3 linked regions of the Homo sapiens genome follow. The protein of the gene in region 1 purifies or fractionates together with the protein of each later gene. This does not show direct contact. Each region holds a gene or a part of one and is shown in the gene's direction. Other genes may lie near its edges.

Evidence for each region.
Region 2: the proteins of SLC16A2 (region 1) and NAPG purify together in Homo sapiens (affinity purification with mass spectrometry; one large-scale study listed by BioGRID and IntAct). This does not show direct contact.
Region 3: the proteins of SLC16A2 (region 1) and TUBGCP2 purify together in Homo sapiens (affinity purification with mass spectrometry; one large-scale study listed by BioGRID and IntAct). This does not show direct contact.

Annotation. Positions count from the first base shown.
Region 1 is NC_000023.11:74,525,842-74,529,492, forward strand, and holds part of SLC16A2 (monocarboxylate transporter 8), read left to right. Parts: coding exon 1-52; intron 53-3,371; coding exon 3,372-3,600; intron 3,601-3,651. UniProt on the Homo sapiens protein: Specific thyroid hormone transmembrane transporter, that mediates both uptake and efflux of thyroid hormones across the cell membrane independently of pH or a Na(+) gradient.
Region 2 is NC_000018.10:10,539,509-10,543,159, forward strand, and holds part of NAPG (gamma-soluble NSF attachment protein), read left to right. Parts: intron 1-253; coding exon 254-363; intron 364-479; coding exon 480-546; intron 547-820; coding exon 821-891; intron 892-3,651. UniProt on the Homo sapiens protein: Required for vesicular transport between the endoplasmic reticulum and the Golgi apparatus.
Region 3 is NC_000010.11:133,291,735-133,295,385, reverse strand, and holds part of TUBGCP2 (gamma-tubulin complex component 2), read left to right. Parts: intron 1-1,616; coding exon 1,617-1,824; intron 1,825-2,147; coding exon 2,148-2,347; intron 2,348-2,697; coding exon 2,698-2,887; intron 2,888-3,338; exon of another isoform or gene 3,339-3,651. UniProt on the Homo sapiens protein: Component of the gamma-tubulin ring complex (gTuRC) which mediates microtubule nucleation.

The DNA of each region.
Region 1 (3,651 bases):
GTCAGGCCACATCAGTGACTCCATCCCTGGACTTAAGAAGATCTACTTGCAGGTGAGTGTGACCACTTGTCCACTGTGGGGAGAAACAGCCTGCCACAAATGCAAGGTTATCCACAGCCTTTGGGATAGAATGGTAGCTTGTTGTGTCGCATGGGAAAGTCAATCAAATTCTCTGAGCCTCCATTTCACCTGCTTTTAAACAAAGAAAATCATCCTTGTTCTGCCTCTTTTACCAAGATTGAGTGAGGATTCTGTGAGAGCAGTGTATATGGAACCTATTAGAACACGTGTAAAGGAAGATTTTATTAATAATGGCTCTCCATGCTCCAAGACTATTTTCTGTGTGAACTAGGCTCTGGTCTGGTCTGAATACAGGCCACTGTTCAGGCTGTCAGTCTTTATCTACCTGGCAGCAGTATTGCCTTTCTTACCTGACTTATGATCCTGCAGGTGGGTTTATGAAGTGGTACCCAAGTGCAGAGCCCTGTGAAGGGGCAAAGATAGCCCCCAAAATCAAGTAGTCACAAGTAATCCATCAGGAAGGTGATTGAGTTCTGACTCATTTATCTCCTGGGAAAGCCCTAAAAGCACATGCAAGGGGCCCTAGCTACACTTACAGTGGTGATTTCTCTGTCTCTGATAGCCCCAAGTGCCCTCCTAAGTACCCTCAAATATCTTGGATGGAAATATGATTAACTTTTCCTTAACTTTTTTGGTGTTAGATTACAAGAGTTGGTAAATCTGCTTTGTCAGAGGCAGGGTTGCTTTTAAGGTCCATCCAATCCAACCTCATTACAGTGGTGGAGAAACAGAGGGAAAGGCTCACACAGACAGTAGTAGCAGAGCTGAACTCCTATGCAACACACTTCTCATATTCTACCTTGCCCTAAGTGATGGCAGAGCCAAGTCTCAGAGATGATAAGTGACTTGACCAAGGTCAAACCAAGAGATAATCTTGTGATTGAGATAAACCAATTGAGATTTTGAATTCCTGTGCAAATATCAGCAAGTGCTTTATCTGGGTGGCTATTTGCATAGGAATATGTGTGGCTTTCCCAGCCTCACCCACATGACACCCCTGTGAGTCTTCCCTGCCAGTATTAGCAGCTCCAAGATGCCAAAGAGTTCTGGAAATCAGGGTAATCTGGCATTGGGCCAGGGCTTTATCTTGAGAAGAGGCAGCAGCCCCTGCCTAGTCGTATAACTCATGTGATTCTTACTACAGTCCCTAGGAGAAAGGTAGAGTCTGAGCAGCTTTTGCTTTCTGTTATACAGTGGGAGTCCAAGGGACAGGGAGGCATTAGCCAGTTAGAGGCCAAGATAGGCTTAGGACCCAGTGCCTCTGCTGACCACCCACCCACTGCTCCTGCCCCTTTTCCTTACTCTTACTTCACCGAGTTTTACTTAGAATAATATAAAATAATCTTAGAACATTATAGCTGAAACATATCTTCATCAACTAGTAGTTGAACTTCCTCATTTTACAAATTGAGTGTCTTGGGCCAAGAGCACAAGACAATGGATGAACTTCTTTCTCTTGAGTTTGTTAAGATACTCCATCACAGGAATTTGCCCCCCTTTCTCCCTGCATGTAATGCAGGAGTACAGGCCTAGGGGAGGAAACGAGTGTACACACCTTCAGGTTCTGAAGAGCTATCCACTAGACTCTGTGGCTCTTAATGTTGGTAAAGACAAGCACATATCTCTGGCTTCAAGCCCCTGGACAGTCTGCTGGAAAGGAAATAGCGACAGGCTGCAGGACAGCCTCACTTTGTGCCAATTCTTGAGGCCTGTTTCTCACGTCCAAGAGGGATTTTAAATTTCTGAATCTTGAGGCCTGTTTCTCACGTCCAAGAGAGATTTTAAATTTCTGAACCTTGGCAAAGCCTCATGGAGGATGTTTAACAGACAGCTAGATACAATAGGTAATACTTAGACCTGATTAAAATCAGTTAATAGGGTCCTTTGTGTTATATAATGGTATTAACTTTTAATTTCCATAATGGGCTTTGTTGATAGGTGTGTCTGGTTTTATCCCATAGTTGTGTGTGAATCTCTTAGAGGAGAAGCTCAGGTACCGGGGTTCTTATTCCTAGCTTCTGCCTAGCTACCTCAAAACTGCCTGGGCAAAGTTCAAAGTCTCCCAACAAAAAGATGTCCTCAGATGGCATTATCCTCTCCAAAAATCAACTGATCAACCTAAAAAACTCACTGCCAGCAACAACATAGAAAATCTTTAGGGCACCAAATAACCTTGACCCCCACTCCTTCCATGTGTTCTTGGCTAAGTTGGCTTGCTTGTGTGAACTACTGGAAAATCCTTGGGCCTATTAAGGCCTTGATAGAGAGATCAGATCTTAGCCCTGACCCTGGGATGACCTGGCTCTGACCTGGCTCTACTGGCTGCAGGGGGTTGGCAGCAGCGGGATGGGGGCAGGGTTCCTTTCTCTGCCTGAAGCCCAGGTCTTCAGTCTAGCTGGCCAACACAGGTTGCAAATGAAGACCAGCTGTGTTTGCAGCAGCCCTTTTCTCTGTGGAGAAGGAAAAAAAAAACAACCTCTGGAAAGGCAGTTTCTTCATTTTGGAGTCATTTTGCTTAGCCCAGAGAAAGCCCAGTGGCTAGTCAGTGTTCCTGGGTTGGCTTCATTCTCCCTAGACATACACCTTCCCAGTGGCTTGGTTCCCCTGGAAGGCTCCTCTGTTGCCTTCTCAGGGTGTCCAGCCAAGCCCAGAGGCCCCCAGAGCCATGTGTCTGAGATGTCTGAGATAGGCAGTGCAGTCCATGTCCTAAAGCATAGGAACCTGGGTGAATGTCCCAATGGTTTCCTTTATGCCAAGGTATTTTATAAAATCAGCCCCCACAAAAATGGGCTCTGGCTCCTTCCCCATTTCAAGAAGCTGTGCCTTCCACTTACAACCCCATCTGATCATCATGCAAGCCATCCTCATGTCCTCCCTTCCCTCTTTCCATATTTTACTTGGATCTGAGAACACCGGTATGGCCTGATCCCAGACCCTGATCCCTGGGGAAGCCAAATACAGGCTCAGAAAGCAGAAACAACAATTCCTTTTATCTTAGGGTCTAGTGCAAGACAAACTTCTTGAGGCCAGGGGCCAAGTATCCCCCAACTTTCTTTTTTTAATCCCAACAGAATCACAGTTAAGTAGGGGCTTTCTTGGACTTTGAATCCCTCAGTGCAAGACTTTGAAAGGGCCTAACCATTCAGCCCAACTGCTCTCTCTGTTGACACCTTCCCCCTCCCACCACCCCATTTTATAGATGGTAGAAATGAAGACTTGAGAAAGGAGATGTGATGCTATGTGGTCTTGGCTGGCCAGCACAACCTGACCTCAGGCCCTTGTTTCTCCAGGTCCTTTCCTTCCTGCTCCTGGGCCTGATGTCCATGATGATTCCCCTGTGCCGGGACTTCGGGGGCCTTATCGTCGTCTGTCTTTTCCTGGGCCTTTGCGATGGCTTCTTCATCACCATCATGGCCCCCATTGCATTTGAGCTGGTGGGCCCAATGCAGGCCTCACAGGCCATTGGCTACCTCCTGGGCATGATGGCCCTGCCAATGATTGCTGGGCCCCCCATTGCAGGTGAGGCTGATATTCCAGGGAGGGCATGAATCAGGGAGTCCTTTTTTCCCT
Region 2 (3,651 bases), on another chromosome or scaffold:
TCGGGGGCTGGGGAATAAGGGGAGGGAGAGCACTAGGACAAATACCTAATGCATGCGGGGCTTAAAACCTAGATGATGGGTTGATAGGTATAGCAAACCACCATGGGACATGTATACCTATGTAACAAACCTGCACATTCTGCACATGTGTCCCAGAACTTAAAATAAAAAATAATTGCATTTCAGATTGTTAACTCTGTTTTTCTTTAATTGATGCATTTGCTGACCTGTCTACTGTATCCTTTGCCCAAAGGAGATGCAGAAACTACCAGAGGCCGTTCAGCTAATTGAGAAGGCCAGCATGATGTATCTAGAAAACGGCACCCCAGACACAGCAGCCATGGCTTTGGAGCGAGCTGGAAAGTGAGTGTGAGATGGACAAGTCTCTGCATAGAAGTCTTGTCTTTTTGTTTTAAAGAGGTCCCTGAAAAACAAGTTTTCCATTTCTCATATAAGACATGTTTTCTTGTCTGATTCAGGCTTATAGAAAATGTTGATCCAGAGAAGGCTGTACAGTTATATCAACAGACAGCTAATGTGTTTGAAGTAAGTTTGAATCTTATTTTTTTCTTTAATTACTTAGAATGTTTAGATTAATAATATATAGGAAAATAGAGAAGTGCAGTGGCTACTTTTAAAACTTTTCCCTGCTCACAGTTGCACGCTATTTCTTTTCTGTTAGAGAGTAGTGAAATGAACTAGCAGCTTTCGTGTTCCCCCCTTGATCCAGTGCCATTACTTCTTTACAAAATAAATATTAGGGGATAAAAACATTTCAACATTAAAGCAGCCAACACTTGTTTTTCTTTGATTCCTTCAGAATGAAGAACGCTTACGACAGGCAGTTGAATTACTAGGAAAAGCCTCCAGACTACTAGTACGAGGACGTAGGTATGTCTTTAAAAACTATTGCTGTGTGTTTAACTATACTTTGAATCCACATTTGGAACTGGAAAGTAATTTGGGGGATAGCTTGTTAATTTTTTGGTATAAGCTGTAGACACACCAGGCCACACAATAGAATATTAACATTTACTAGACAGTAGGCACACTGAATTAGATATTAAAAGATCTGCTGTTTTTTGAAAGTGTAATGCCCAAATTTATCATGCACTGTGCTTTTATTGGTTGAACCCTGGCTCAGCAACATGAAAGGGAACAGTTTCCTTCATCTGTTACTTGGTTGGATTATAATATCTCTCTCAAGGAAAAATAAGAATATTAGGATAAATGACAAAGATGCATAAACACTCACCCATGAAAACTGACAGGTTCTTGACAAATAGTGTCATTATTAGAATATTTACCTTGTTATCGTTTCACATATGACCTGAAGCACAAATAGTTGAACCTCAGAAAGCTAAAATCCTATTGGGATTTCCTTTTGTTTTTTTACTTTATCTCAGTTTACTTTTAGTAAACAATTTTTTTCATTAATAAAATTCTGTCTCAATAATATTTAAGATAAACATCTCTAGGAGATTGTAAGTCTGCAGATATCTTAATTGAAATTTGTCCAAAGCTTCCCAGTAACAGAAAACACCCAAGATCCATTTAATATGTCAAGGAATCAAAATAGAAATGACTGATGAATCTATCCTATCTGAGACTGAATTAAATTTTTTCTTCATGAAGACTGCAGATTCTGAAATACAATTTAAACCGGTCTAGAGTAATATGAGAATAAATTAATCTAGAATTAACTATTAAACAATCTCATTTAGATTAATTTGTTTATAGGACCTTCCTTCACTGAGGAGTATTTTTTTGTCTAAATGGAATAGAAATTTCATTTTGTTTTTAAATTAGGACTTTAATCATGAAGGAAAGTTTAATTTAAATGTCAGTCCGGGGTCATTATCTTTATTCATCTTATTACTTACTCGTCGCTTCCCAGAAATCAGTGAATGAAATGCTAACTCTGACAAATCCCAACTTAAAAATGGTTCACTTTAGTTTCTGAAAGTGTTTGTTACAGCAGCAGAGCTGTTCTTGGTGATGGCGTTATGGCTGTGGCAAAATAGCTGAACTGTGAGGTGATACCAAGGTTCTGACTTGTGAGCAGGGGCCCCATGTCTTAGAAACAGTGTCCTTCATTCTTTTCAGGGCAGCTAGGAGGCAAGTTTTAGCATAGTTTACCTCCTTTCTCTTCTGTTCTCATCTCCTGATGCTCCCCGACAAGACTCCCAGTGCCTTTCTAGAGCGCTAAGCCCCTTACTATAAGACCCCATGGAAGGTGAAGGAAGTGAAGTTGCAGGAAGGGGCAGAAGTTAAGGACAGCCCTGTGTGAAAGTCCAGACTGCATCAGCTCCCCTGAAGTATTTCTGCTTTCCACATCTTCTTTCCTTTTGTTTCTCAAGGTATAGATTATCTAAAGCTGTGTTGTAGAGGGAGTAGCAGGAAAGGAGAGAGGCCAGGATCTTTTCGGGGGAGGTCAGATGAGGAACGTTTTCCAGCTGCCTGTGCATATTCCTTTAGAAAGCTCCACTAGGGATGGGGGCCACCATCATCCTCAAAACATTACCAGTGTTGCCAGTCGGTTTGGACACATCTGATGAAAGCCATTGTTTTAAAGCAATTACTGTGTTAAATTCTTCAAAGCCTCAGCAGAGGGGAGAATGCTAGTTGAGTGAGCAGCAGAAGTGAGAATGCTGCGTAGATGTGCTCAAAGGGCACATTTATAAATCCAGGGCTTTTATTCGTGACTTTGTTTTATTGGTTTTTTTTTTTTCTTTTTAGGAAAAATGTATTTTAAAATGGTACTTTCTACTGTGCTCAACAAAAATGTTATGGAAATATATTTTTGAAGTGTATTAACAATATAAAAATTAATTTAAATTTGTGCAGGAACATGAAGGAATTTGATCTTTTGAAAAGTGTTGCTGGGTATCTTGGTATGAAAAAATTAAGTCTACTGTCATGGTACTTCTATTGGGAACTTAAATAGTGCAGGATAAGAAAAAACATGCAGTGTTTATAGTGATGGAGACATTATTGAGATGATTTATGTGATAATTGAAAATATTAACTATGTGCTTAGATTATTATTTGATTGCATCTGTTGCCTAAAAGAACTAAACAGGTGGTAATTTTATGCTTCACACAAGCAACATCTACTAATAGACTGTGTGGCATGGAGTCTAAAGTTTTATGTTTGTTATATTTAGTTAGTGCACTTATGTTTTTACATTAACATGAGTCCATAAGATGTCCTAATTTAATACTTTCTATGTTAGTGTAGCAAAGAATCTATTTAATATATTAATCTCTTGCTTCTCCTTCAGTTTTGGAGAGTCAAAATTCAGAAGTGATTCGTAGTTTCATTTAGATTACATCTGGGAAAAGTCAGTCCAAGGCCAGTGCCCTTGTTCCTTTTTAGAAAAGGCCTTTCCAGGCTGGGTGCAGTGGCTCATGCCTGTAATCACAACACTTTGGGAGGCTGAGGCAGGCAGATCACCTGAGGTCAGAAGTTCAAGATTAGCCTTGGCCAAATGGTGAAACTCCTTCTCTACTAAAAATACAAAAAGTAGCCGGGTGTGATGACGCACACCTATAATCCCAGCTACTCGGGAGGCTGGAGAATCGCTTGAACCCAGGAGGCACAGGTTGCAGTGAGACTCCCATCTCAAAAAAAAAAAAAAAGAAAAGAAA
Region 3 (3,651 bases), on another chromosome or scaffold:
AGCCTCGACCTCCCAAGCTCAGGTGATTCTCCCACCTCAGCCTCCCGAGTAGCTGGGACTGCAGGTGTGCACCATCACACGCAGCTAATTTCTGTATTTTCAGTAGAGACGGGGATTCGCCGTGTTGCCCAGGCTGGTCTTGAACTCCTGGAGTCAAGCGATCTGTCCACCTTGGCCTCCTAAAGTGATGGGATTACAGGTGTGAGCCACCATACCCGGCCTAAAGCAACCCTTGAGGTCCCTCCACAGCCAGGCGGCTGGATCCACACTAACCCCCACCCCACGGCACCTCCACCCCACCGTGAGGCTTCTCCCCACAAGGGCATTGGCCGAGGCTTCGTGGCTGTGGATGAATGAGGCCAACATGGTGGAAAGTAAGTGATGCAGAGTCAGAGGCAGTTCCTGGAAGATGCACTCGCTGTTCCCAAAACGCCAAGCCACACCCACTCCTTTAGGGATGGTAGACATTGGGGTCTCGGTTTTATTGGTCATCCTGAGAAGGCCACTGGAGTAATAGAAAGAAATGGAATTTGAAGTTGAAAAGTGTAGATCTGCCAGCCTGGGCAACACGGCAAGACCCCACCTTTACAAAAAATTTAAAAATTAGCCAGGAATGGTGGCACGTGCCAGTGGTCCCAGCTCCGAGGGAGACTAAGGATACAGGATCGCTTGAGCCTGGGTGCTCAAGGCTGCAGTGAGCTGAGATTGCACCACTGCCCTCCAGACTGGGTGACAGAGTGAGATTTGTCTCAAAAATAAAAAAAGGAAAAAAAAAAAACAAGGACAGTGTGGATCTGCATCAGGATTGAGGCTTTCGCTGAAGGGCTTGCGTTGGTGACGGATTGTAGTCTTGAGGCCTGCAGTCACAGGACACTTCCCAGCAGATGTGTGAGGCTGACAGAGTGATTTTGTAAACCGAAAGCCTGTTGTACGGAGCCTTCCTGAGCTGCCAGGGCCTGGTTTGGGTATGGTCTGGCTGGCACGGGGCCCTGTCAGGCCCTCGTGGGGACAGTTTCAACATCCTGCTTTCGTCTGGTGCTCCTCCCGGCCCCCCAGGCATGGCCCGCCTGAGGCTGTGGACTGAGAACTTGGTCCTGGGACCTGAGGGGTTTGGTGGGTGGCGGCCCGTGGCCGTCCTCGTGAGGAAGCTTAGCTGTGTGTCCTGCAGCCGTCTCATCCTCTCTGGATAGAAATTATCAAGAGTTTCTTAACGTTTAAGTGATAGCTTTTTAAAGACAAGGTTTTTTGTCCCAGAGTAACTCAGACTTACCAAGTTGTACTTACCAATGTTGAAAGTGCAGCTTCTGCTGGAGTCGCCTTTTCAACTCCTAACTTCACCTTTTCAAATGTCAGCCATGTATCTGAGCATTGCGGAGCCGAGTGTGGTGAGATCTTGACACCAGCCACCACGCCTCCCAGGCCGGCCCCGTCCTGCGGCGGTTGGAACTCAGCCTGTGGCTCCCCAGTGGGGTCAGTCAAAGCCAAGTGCAGTGGCTGACCTTTTATACCCATAAACAAAGATGAGCAAGAGTGAGACTGACCCGCAGATGAGGGCACGTGGCTGTGGGGGCATGGGAGTGGGGGCTGCAGAGCCACAGCGCTGTCTGTGCCCGCAGGCACGTTGCCCCTGGCCTCGCAGGAGTCGGCCGTGGTGGAGGACCTGCTGTACGTGCTGGTGGGCGTGGACGGGAGGTACGTCAGTGCTCAGCCCCTGGCTGGGAGGCAGAGCCGGACCTTCCTCGTGGACCCCAACCTGGACCTGTCCATCAGGGAGCTGGTGCACAGGATCCTCCCAGTGGCCGCCAGCTACTCCGCTGTGACCAGGTGGGCACCGGGCGCGGTCCCTGGGAGCCTGCGCTGTTGTGGGGGAGGGGTTAGGTCCCATCCTGATGACCATGGGGACGTCTGCATCGCTTCTAAAGAGAGCGCCCGCCTTGGTGACAACTCCGTGCCCAACTCAGTTTTGGAGGGTCTGTGAGTCACCATCCAGGGTCCTGACTCATCTCCTCCTGGGGCAAAAGTTCCCCTCTGGGATGTGGGGTTCAAGTGAGTCATTTGCTTCCTGTTTGGGATGAGACTCAGAATATCGGACATTGTATGTGCCTGCAGCTTGCCTTTTTGAGGAAGTCTGACAGCTTTTCTTCCAGGTTCATTGAAGAGAAGTCTTCCTTCGAGTACGGGCAGGTGAACCACGCCCTGGCGGCCGCCATGCGCACCCTGGTGAAGGAGCACCTGATTCTGGTGTCACAGCTGGAGCAGCTGCACAGGCAGGGCCTCCTTTCGCTGCAGAAGCTCTGGTTCTACATCCAGCCAGCCATGCGCACCATGGACATCCTGGCCTCCCTCGGTGCGTGCCCGCCCGGGGGGCATGGGGCAGTGGTGGGTGGCAGGTGTTGAACATGGCACCCAGTGTGAGGAGAGACTCTGCAGGGGCCGTGGAGCAGCTGCCCAGGGCAGGGGCGTGTGGCCAAAGCTCATGTTGCTCCATGTGCTATTAACTTGCAAGAGGAAAGCCCTGGAAGCTCTTACTGGTCAGCTGAAATCAGCAACTACAACCTTACAGTTAATACGTATCCCAAAGAAGCAGCACCGTCCCAGGAAGAAGGTTGGAGAAGCATGAGGGGCCCCAGCAGTGTTGTTGGCAGAGGCTGGGCGTGCGCTTCCTTCTCAGCAGTGAGCCCTCCTTTCTCCCCACAGCCACCTCGGTGGACAAAGGCGAATGTCTTGGGGGGTCCACGCTGAGCCTGCTCCACGACAGGAGCTTCAGCTACACAGGGGACAGCCAGGCGCAGGAGCTATGCCTGTACCTAACCAAGGCGGCCAGTGCTCCCTACTTCGAGGTTCTGGAGAAGTGGATCTACAGGGGCATCATCCACGACCCATACAGGTAGGGCTCCCCGGGACACGGGGACACGGAGGGACACGGGGACACGGAGGGACATGGGGGACACGGAGTGTGCATGCTGCCCTCTCCCGTACAGGTAGGGCTCCCCGGGACACGGGGACACGGGGGACACGGAGGGACACGGGGGACACGGAGTGTGCATGCTGCCCTCTCCCGTACAGGTAGGGCTCCCCGGGACACGGGGACATGGGGGACACGGAGGGACACGGGGGACACGGAGTGTGCATGCTGCCCTCTCCCGTACAGGTAGGGCTCCCCGGGACACGGGGACATGGGGGACACGGAGGGACACGGGGGACACGGAGTGTGCATGCTGCCCTCTCCCGTACAGGTAGGGCTCCCCGGGACACGGGGACATGGGGGACATGGGGGACACGGAGGGACACGGAGGGACACGGAGGGACACGGGGGACACGGAGGGACATGGGGGACACGGAGGGACACGGAGGGACACAGAGGGACATGGGGGACACGGAGGGTGCGTGCTGCCCTCTCCCGTACAGGTAGGGCTCCCCGGGACACGGGGACACGGAGGGACACGGAGGGACATGGGGGACACGGAGGGACATGGGGGACACGGACGGTGCATGCTGCCCTCTCCCGTACAGGTAGGGCTCCCCGGGACACAGGGACACGGAGGGACATGGGGGACACGGAGGGACATGGGGGACACGGAGGGCGCGTGCTGCCCTCTCCCGTACAGGTAGGGCTCCCCGGGACACGGGGACACGGAGGGACACGGGGAC